Linked DNA regions of Homo sapiens. The protein of the gene in region 1 purifies or fractionates together with the protein of each later gene. This does not show direct contact. Each region holds a gene or a part of one and is shown on either strand. Other genes may lie near its edges.

Region 1 (4,492 bases):
ATACTCCAAAATTTCCATCACTGTTATAAAAGATCCACATTCCAAGTTTAAATAATTACAAATACAACTGTAAGAAGTTGCTATTGAACTAGAGTATAAAAAATACCCAGAGTATGTAGATGAGCGAATAAATCTTCATTTAGGGTTGAGGTAGAGCAGCTGTCTACCTCCTTTCTTGACTGTCTATGTTCTTCCAACATCCAATTATCAGAATTTGATGCAGTAAGTGATTAAAGAAACTTATCATGGGCCAGTTGTCACCTATCTCCGCAGTGTTGCCCTGTGCTCTTGGAATTGGAAGACTTCCTAATTCCTTAAAGTGAAAGGATGTGAATGATGCTCCTGCTCTCCCTGACCAGCACCTCATGCTTTGCAGTGGAGAATCTGTCCTGAGACCCAAAAGATAGTGGCCTCCGCATTGTGCTGCCAGGGCAGCTGCTATGTGCAACTGTCCGCAGCTGCAAACCTTCCGCCCTTTGCTGGTGCTTCAGCGGATGCCCAGGTCTCTATTGTCATTGCTGCCTCTTTCTCCATTTGCTTCCAGCTTTCTCCAGGTAGAGAGTAAGTATTTTTATTTACACAAATGACCTAAGTTGTTTTCTCTGTCTGGATTAAAATATACATGCAAATGAGACATATGAGATAAGCACTATCTTTTCCAGACATCACTGATGTTACATTGGATGCTATGTGAATACAAAACTCTTCAACCAAAGCCTTCTTCACTTTAGTTAAGTCCAGAGCAGACTGTCTGGGTTACATGCATACCTGAGCTAATGCAGCCAAGTAAGAAACACACACTTGGTTAAAATGCTTAAAAAGATGAAGGAGAAGGGAAGACAAGTCCTCTGCTTGGATATTACTAGAGGAGAAAACCCAGACTCAAACACAGATTTTTTTTTTCTTTTTTAAAAGAATTGAATTGGACCCAGTGACATCAACAGGAGGTGTCTGGGGGTAAAGAGAATGGAAAGGGGAGAGAAAAATCAAGACAACTCAAATAAGTTAAAATAGAAAGGAGGGGGGTCCAAAGTGAGGAAGGAGAAGTGGAGGGGACCAAGAAACAGGGAGAGAGACTCAGAGAGGAGAAGAAAAAGAAAAGAACATTTTGAGCAGCCTTGGAACTCTCTGTATAACTTCAGGAAGGGATAGTTTGTAAAACCAGGTCCTACCTGTTATGTTGTGTGTCTTATGCATGATTTTTTAACACTAAAATAAAAACGCTCAGCCAACAGGATAGAATCGACATGGCAGTTTATTTATGTCCCTGTTCTCATGAACATTAGGGGGCTTTTGAGAAGCGTTTGAGGACATTGGCAACTTTATGATAGTTATGTTTGTTCTGCCCCTCCATGCCTTTCATCTTTCTGTTTCTCTCTGTTCTTCCTTATTCACCAAACCCACCCAAGGCATTCAGGCGTATTATTTACTTCCTGAAATATGTGTCTCAAGTGTTTGTTCCACCAGCAGTGGGATAGTAGCGTGTCCACATTGTCCTTTGAGAATGAGAAGTCATCCTGGAGCACAGCTCTTCCCACGCTCCGGGCCCACACACCCAGCCTCACTCCATCAAAGGAGCCCCGCTGCCTGCCCACCCACCCTGGGTGCTTTCTGGCTTGCAGTGCTCTTGGCAGACATGAGGCAACGATTGCTCCCGTCCGTCACCAGCCTTCTCCTTGTGGCCCTGCTGTTTCCAGGTAAAATGGAAAGGTGACCCGGGTCTGGGTGCCAGAATCTCTCTGCAATGGTCATCTGAGGTATGGGAGTCCAGGCTGGACAGGGAGAGATGAAGTCCTTGGGGCATGTATTCCTGGTGGAGCTTTGGGTACGAGTCTCTGAACTGGGTTCATAAATGGCACTCTGAATTGGCTGATGGCACTTGCTTCCCAGGGAAGAGTGTCCCTCCCCGACTCCATTTTCTTATCCTTTTAACATTCCCCTTTCCCTTACAGAGAAGAACATTACATTTTAGGGAATCTTAACAACTGCATTAGTGACACTTGAAATAAATTCTCTGGCTGTGCTGGCTTTGAGGAGGTGCTCAGACTCACCATTCATGGCATACATTTCTTACACTTCATTCACCTTCTCTCTCTACACATAGGTGCATACAACGCATGTGCACAAATGTGCACACACACGGAACACTAGCACCCCTCCCAACTCCCCCACCCAATCACCCATGCTCACTCACCTGGTAGAGTGTAGGTGCCTCATGCTGACGGGTCTGCCAGGCGGAGGCCTCAGAGCATCCGCAGACGTGTGTTTCCACTTGCACAGGATCGTCTCAAGCCAGACATGTGAACCACTCAGCCACTGAGGCTCTCGGAGAACTCAGGGAAAGAGCCCCTGGGCAAGGCACAAACGGGTTTCAGCTGCTACGCCACGCAGTGAAACGGGACCTCTTACCACCGCGCACCCCACCTTACCAAGGTGAGTCAGGGACCAACACGTGCAACAAGTGCATCCACTGGGGAGACGTAGAGGGAACAAATAGACGGGAAGATGTCTGTGCTGGTCGGGGTGGGTGAGCAGTCATTGTTTGGGGAAGACATGGTGCGGGTGCATTGGGCTGCCCTGCCTGTCAGGGAGACCACGGGGTCTCACAGCTTCCCCTGGGGCTGGATCATTGAGGGCCTTGTGGAACGTGGGAGTATTGAGGGGCCAAAAGGCAATTTATCTGAAGCCACACCAGTAATTGCTGGCTTCCTCCAAGAACAGGTGCCAGAGGAGACACTGGTGGAAACATGGCCTCCTGCCAGGTTGCAGCCCCATGCCCTTAGCTTTGGAGGTCGTTCCCGTTCAAGGAATTTACTGAATACCTACCTACTAAGTTTCAGGTGTCCATTGAGGTCTGGGAAATGCTTCCTGAGGATGGGGGCAGAGAATAGACTGTATTGTCAGTCTACTCAGGCAAGGAGGTAGCAGGACATGGCAAGGGACAATTGAGCCCACAGCCACTCTTCTGGACTCTTCCAGAAGGGCCAGGCTTCTGGTCAGCCCCCAAACCCCTGGGCAGGACCAGCTTCAAATCCAAAAGGGCCTGGAAGAGCCTGTAGTTTCCAAGATGCTTCTTTAATGCCAAGCTGATTGCTGACCCTAAGACAGGGAGAACTAGGTTAGCAGATCAGTGGGCAAGAGCAAGAAAGACAGGAGGGTGTTGGCAAATTGCTGTGACATCCAGCAAATAAAGTCCTGCTGAATTTGATGCCTGCAGCATCCTACCCAACCTCCCATCCCTTTCTAATTGGCCCACAGTTCCAAAGGACTCATTCATCTGGATCTCCTCCCAAGGGAAGGGAAAAAGAAAACTCAATTATTACACAACAAATATAAACAGGTGCAATAGTAGGCGTGTGTTATTTAGTCTAACAGTATTCCTGTGAGACAGGATTATTCCTTCCTTTGGTTAAAGGAGATTTAGTGGGGCAGAGCTATATATCTGGAGTTGATGTTTTAGTTTGGAACTTGAAGCTATTAACTATGGAAAGCTGTTTCATATCCATGCCACCCCCACCCTGTCCCTCACGGCTCAAATGACCACTGTTTGATTCTGGAGATGGTCTTAAGAAGCTAATGTTGGATTTTTTCTTTTTTTAATGCAGAACCTGCATCAGATTTAAAAGTTGTTGACTGCAGGAGAAGTGAAGGCTTCTGCCAAGAATACTGTAATTATATGGAAACACAAGTAGGCTACTGCTCTAAAAAGAAAGACGCCTGCTGTTTACATTAAAACTGATGTTGCTGATATAGAAACAAAGCTCTGCCACTTACCTGTTCTCCGGGGCCACGTTGTCCAATCAGGTGCAGGTTTTTTGCGGAAGTGTCTGAGCAGCAGGGAGCGGAGATATTGCCACTTGTGCCAGACAGTTCAAATATTTTATTGTGGCAAGATAAATGACAAAAATGCTACCTGTGATCTTACAGAAGATGACTTAGCTTGACATGAACAGAATTTTCAAAATCACACAATTTGTGCTAGTAAATGTGGATATCATAAACTTTTATTAGAAAGAATTAAAATAATTTGTTCTTTTATTTAAAAACTATTTTTTGAATACCTACTTCTATTCTAGGTACTGTGCAATGGAGTCCATTCTATTCTAAGTACTGTGAAATGTAGTTGAGGTGTCAGGTGTGTGGTCAAACCCATTCTCCATCAGCCCCATCATCTCCTACCTGCAGGCCAGTTCGAAGCCCTGTTCTCTAGCAGCAGCTGAGAGAGTGTGCAGGCAAATGCCTTCTGGGGAGATACTGAGAGCTGGGAGTTACTGCCTGTTCTCTTTGTGCTAAACCTGGAAGAATACCCTCTGGAAGTCCTCTTGTGCCCCTTTAAAACTACCCATTTGTTCTCTGTGGCCTTAGAAGACACAAAATGCAGAGACCCATTTATAACCCGATGGTGCTGTGCAATTCCAGGCTTTTGGTGTCCTGAACAAAGAACTGGATGTGATACTCAGACAGCAAAGCAAGCAGCAAAAGTGTGTGAAGC
Region 2 (3,816 bases), on another chromosome or scaffold:
ACGTGATCCTCCCGTGAACTTAGCCTCCCAGGTAGCTGGGACTACAGACGTGCCTAATTTTCTTTTTCGTTCTTTCTTTGTTTGGCAGAGATGGGGTCTCACTAAGTTGCCTAGGCTTGTCTCAAACTCCTGGGCTCAAGCTCAGCCTCCTAAAGTGCTGAGATTACAGGCATGAACCACTGCACTTAGCCAAATTGGAAGTCTTAATTAGGAAGAATTATAGTTCAAATCTGTATGTTATATAAAAAAATACAGTACAACAGTATAAAATGAAAAGTAAAAAGTCCTTATTCTCTGCTATCCCCATTTAACCACTATTTATACATCTTGTGAATCCTAGAAATTTTCTATGTGTGTGTATATTTGTTTATGTGGATTTGTGTATGCTTCACTATCTTGATTGCTCTGAACTGAAACTCATTTTTCATCATTTGCTTCTAACATCTATTATTAATGTCTTTTCTAGTAGACTGATCTTTCAAGATCAGGGACTCCATTTTGTTCATGGATACATGACTCCCGTAGTGTCTGGTACATACAGGTTTTCCTTTCCTGCCTCAGCCTCCCTAGTAGCTGGGACTACAGGTGTGCGCCACCAGACCCAGCTAATTTTTGTATTTTTAGTAGACACAGAGTTTCACCATGTTGGCCAGGCTGGTCTTGAACTCCTGACCTCAAGTAATCAGCCCACCTTGGCCCCCCAAAGTGCTGGGATTACAGGCGTGAGCCACTGCTCCTGGCCTCGGTTTTTCATATTTGTTGAATGACTGAATGCAGAAGCTCGGGTTAGGGAAAGCAGTTTTAGAGGCTGTGTCCCCAAAACCAGGTTTCCCAAGGCTTGAAAGTGCTATTCCTTTCTTGAGTTATGCCAAAATGCTGATCCTCTCCATTTTATTATTTAGACAAAAAGGTTGGGGAGAAGCCATTTTCAGGGGAGGGGAACATGCCATCAGCAAAAATTAATGTGAAGGAACATATTTCAAGCAGGGATAGTCTCCAGAATGAAAGAGAGGGGAACAAAAACAAAAATTAGCACCCATGCTGTCTCACATATGGGCCTCAGAACAGAGAAGTCTGTCTCTGCTTATCATGGTAAGAAAGGAATGTTTTTCACTTTTTGTCATGTCCTTTGATTAGTTAATGTCTTTATTTAGGTATGTAGGGCCCCTGTGTTTTCAGAATTCTATTGGCCACTTTTTTTTTCTTTTTTTTTTTTGCCTGAGGTTAATGTTTACAAAATTCAGAATTAAATTTTGTATTGCCTTTCCCCTAGTGTTTTACATTTCTCAATAATAGGAACTTAATTTGTCCTGGGGTTCTTTTCTCTTTTTCTAGAGTACAAATCAAACGTCTTCTTTTGAAATTTAATACTGGTTTAAAATATAATTTAGTTGGCAGAAGTCAGCTGAGCTATAGTCTATTTGGATCTTTTCCTAATATTAGTGGAATTTCTTAGGTTGAGAGGACTAGGAAGGGAAAACTGATTTTAAGATTGGTTTTGGGATTCCTGAAATAGGTTTATGACTTGTTTTTCAGCAAGCACTGACACAATATTCTGGTTGTTTTCTTTAAACTGCTTTGGAAAGGTGTCAAAAACTGCTGTTCATCTTCTTTGCAACTATAAAAGTTAGCTAAAAACTGTAACCTGAGTCAGACAGTCTTTCTGTGTGCCTCATATCTATTGGATATTCCAATCCTCTCATTTGTTTTGCTTTTATAGGAAGCTGCTTCCAAGCTTAAAAACTAAGAAGCCTCGAGAACTTGTGCTAGTGATTGGAACAGGCATTAGTGCTGCAGTTGCGCCCCAAGTTCCAGCCCTCAAATCCTGGAAGGGGTTAATTCAGGCCTTACTGGATGCTGCCATTGATTTTGATCTTTTAGAAGATGAGGAGAGCAAAAAGTTTCAGAAATGTCTCCATGAAGACAAGAACCTGGTCCATGTTGCCCATGACCTTATCCAGAAACTCTCTCCTGTGAGTACCCTAGTATGTGCCACAGTATTTGGAATTTCCTAAAATTTAACTATCACAACTAGCATGATTTGGCTGTCAAAACTAGCATGCCAAATGTAACAGGGATATTCATTTACAGCTTGTAGGTTTCCATAACATTTGACTCTTCTGCGCAATGTCTGTTTATGGACCCTACTCAGGACAGTTGTCTTAACCCCATTTCACTGTGTGTCTATGAGAGAGAAATGATGTTGAGGACTTTATATGTACAAATTACCACTGTGTTTTGAATTTATTTTTTTCCTGCATCACTACTATAAAAGCTGTGTTCTGTGGCATCCATGCCTTGTATGGAATCCCACAAAGATTGGAGATAATTTTATCATTTTATACATGAAACAAAACCAGTTTTTAGTGTTCTTTTTAGAGGTAATAAGTCAAAATATTTAGAAGGAATTGCACCTTATTTTACCAAACTGAGTTGGATAAAAGGACTCCCTGTCTTGCTTTGTCTGAAAATTTATTTATTTATTTATTTATTTTTTGATGGAATCTTCTTCTTGTCACCCAGGCTGAAGTTCAGTGGTTCGATCTCGCCTCATGGCAGCCTCCGCCTCCTGGGTTCAAGCGATTCTCCTGTCTCAGCCTCCTGAGTAGGTGGGATTACAGGCATGTGCCACCATGCCCAGCTAATTTTTGTATTTTTAGTAGAGACAGGGTTTTGCCATGTTGGTCAAGCTGGTCTCGAACTTCTGACCTCAAGTGATCTGCCCACCTCAGCCTCACAAAGTGCTGGGATTATAGGCATGAGCCACTGCACCCAGCCTGTTTTAAAATCTTAAAAATCAGGCTTCTAGGGCCAGGCGTGGTGGGCACCTGTAATCCCAGCTGCTCAGGAGGCTGAGGCAGGAGAATGGCTTGAACCCGGGAGGTGGAGGTTGCACTGAGTTGCGGTCGCGCCACTGCACTCCAGCCTGGGCGACAGAGGAAGACTCCGTCTCAAAAAAAAAAAAAAAAAAAGGAATTAATGGGGTTTTAAAGAGTTCATGGAATCTCCATACACTTTATAAAAATTAAAAATGGATCAAAGACCTAAATATGATACCTAAAACTGTAAAACTCTTAGAAGAAAATACAGATTTAAAATTTCATGACTGGATCTGGCAGTGGTTTTTTAGACATGACACCAAAAATGCAAAAAACTAAAGTAAAAAAAAATATAGATAAACTGGACTTCTCCAAAGTTAAAAACTGTTAGGCTGAAAGGACACTGTCAAGAAAGTGAGCCGGGGATGGTGGCTCATGCCTATAATCCCAGAACTTTGGGAGGCCAAGGCAGGAGAACTGCTTGAGGGCATGAGTTCAAGACCAGCCTGGACAACATAGTGAGACCCTGTCTCTACCAAAAGAAAAAAAAAAGTGAAAAGACAGCTTCCAGAATGAGAAAATGTTAGCAAATCACATATCTCATAGGCGTATAATATCCAGAATCTATAAAGAACTACTGTAACTTAATAAAGGCTAATAATTCAATTTTAAAATAACGATGTAGTTGAATAGACATTTCTCCAAAGAAGATACACAAACGGCCAATAAGTGCATACGAAAAGATGTTCAGCGTCATTAGTCATTAGGAAAATACAAATCAAAACCACAACAAGGTGCCATTTCACACCCGCTGGCATGACTAGAATCAAGAAGACAATAATAAGTGTTATTAAGGATGTGGAGAAATTGGAACCTTTGTGGGAATGTAAAGTGATGCAGTTGCTTTGGAAAACAGATTGGCAGTTCCTCAAAAAGTTGAACAGTGATTCTATGAACCAGCAACTGCACTCATAAGTATATACCTAAGCGAATGGAA

The links.
Region 2: the proteins of SPAG11A (region 1) and FAM118B purify together in Homo sapiens (affinity purification with mass spectrometry, with the first as the bait; one large-scale study listed by BioGRID). This does not show direct contact.

What each region holds. Positions count from the first base shown.
Region 1 is NC_000008.11:7,846,411-7,850,902, forward strand, and holds the start of SPAG11A (sperm-associated antigen 11A isoform 3 precursor), read left to right. Parts: upstream 1-1,597; 5' UTR 1,598-1,636; coding exon 1,637-1,697; intron 1,698-2,280; coding exon 2,281-2,433; intron 2,434-3,605; coding exon of another isoform or gene 3,606-3,733; intron 3,734-4,492. UniProt on the Homo sapiens protein: Has antimicrobial activity against E.coli. Plays a role in the defense response in the male reproductive tract, contributing to sperm maturation, storage and protection.
Region 2 is NC_000011.10:126,239,072-126,242,887, forward strand, and holds part of FAM118B (protein FAM118B), read left to right. Parts: intron 1-1,720; coding exon 1,721-1,973; intron 1,974-3,816. UniProt on the Homo sapiens protein: May play a role in Cajal bodies formation.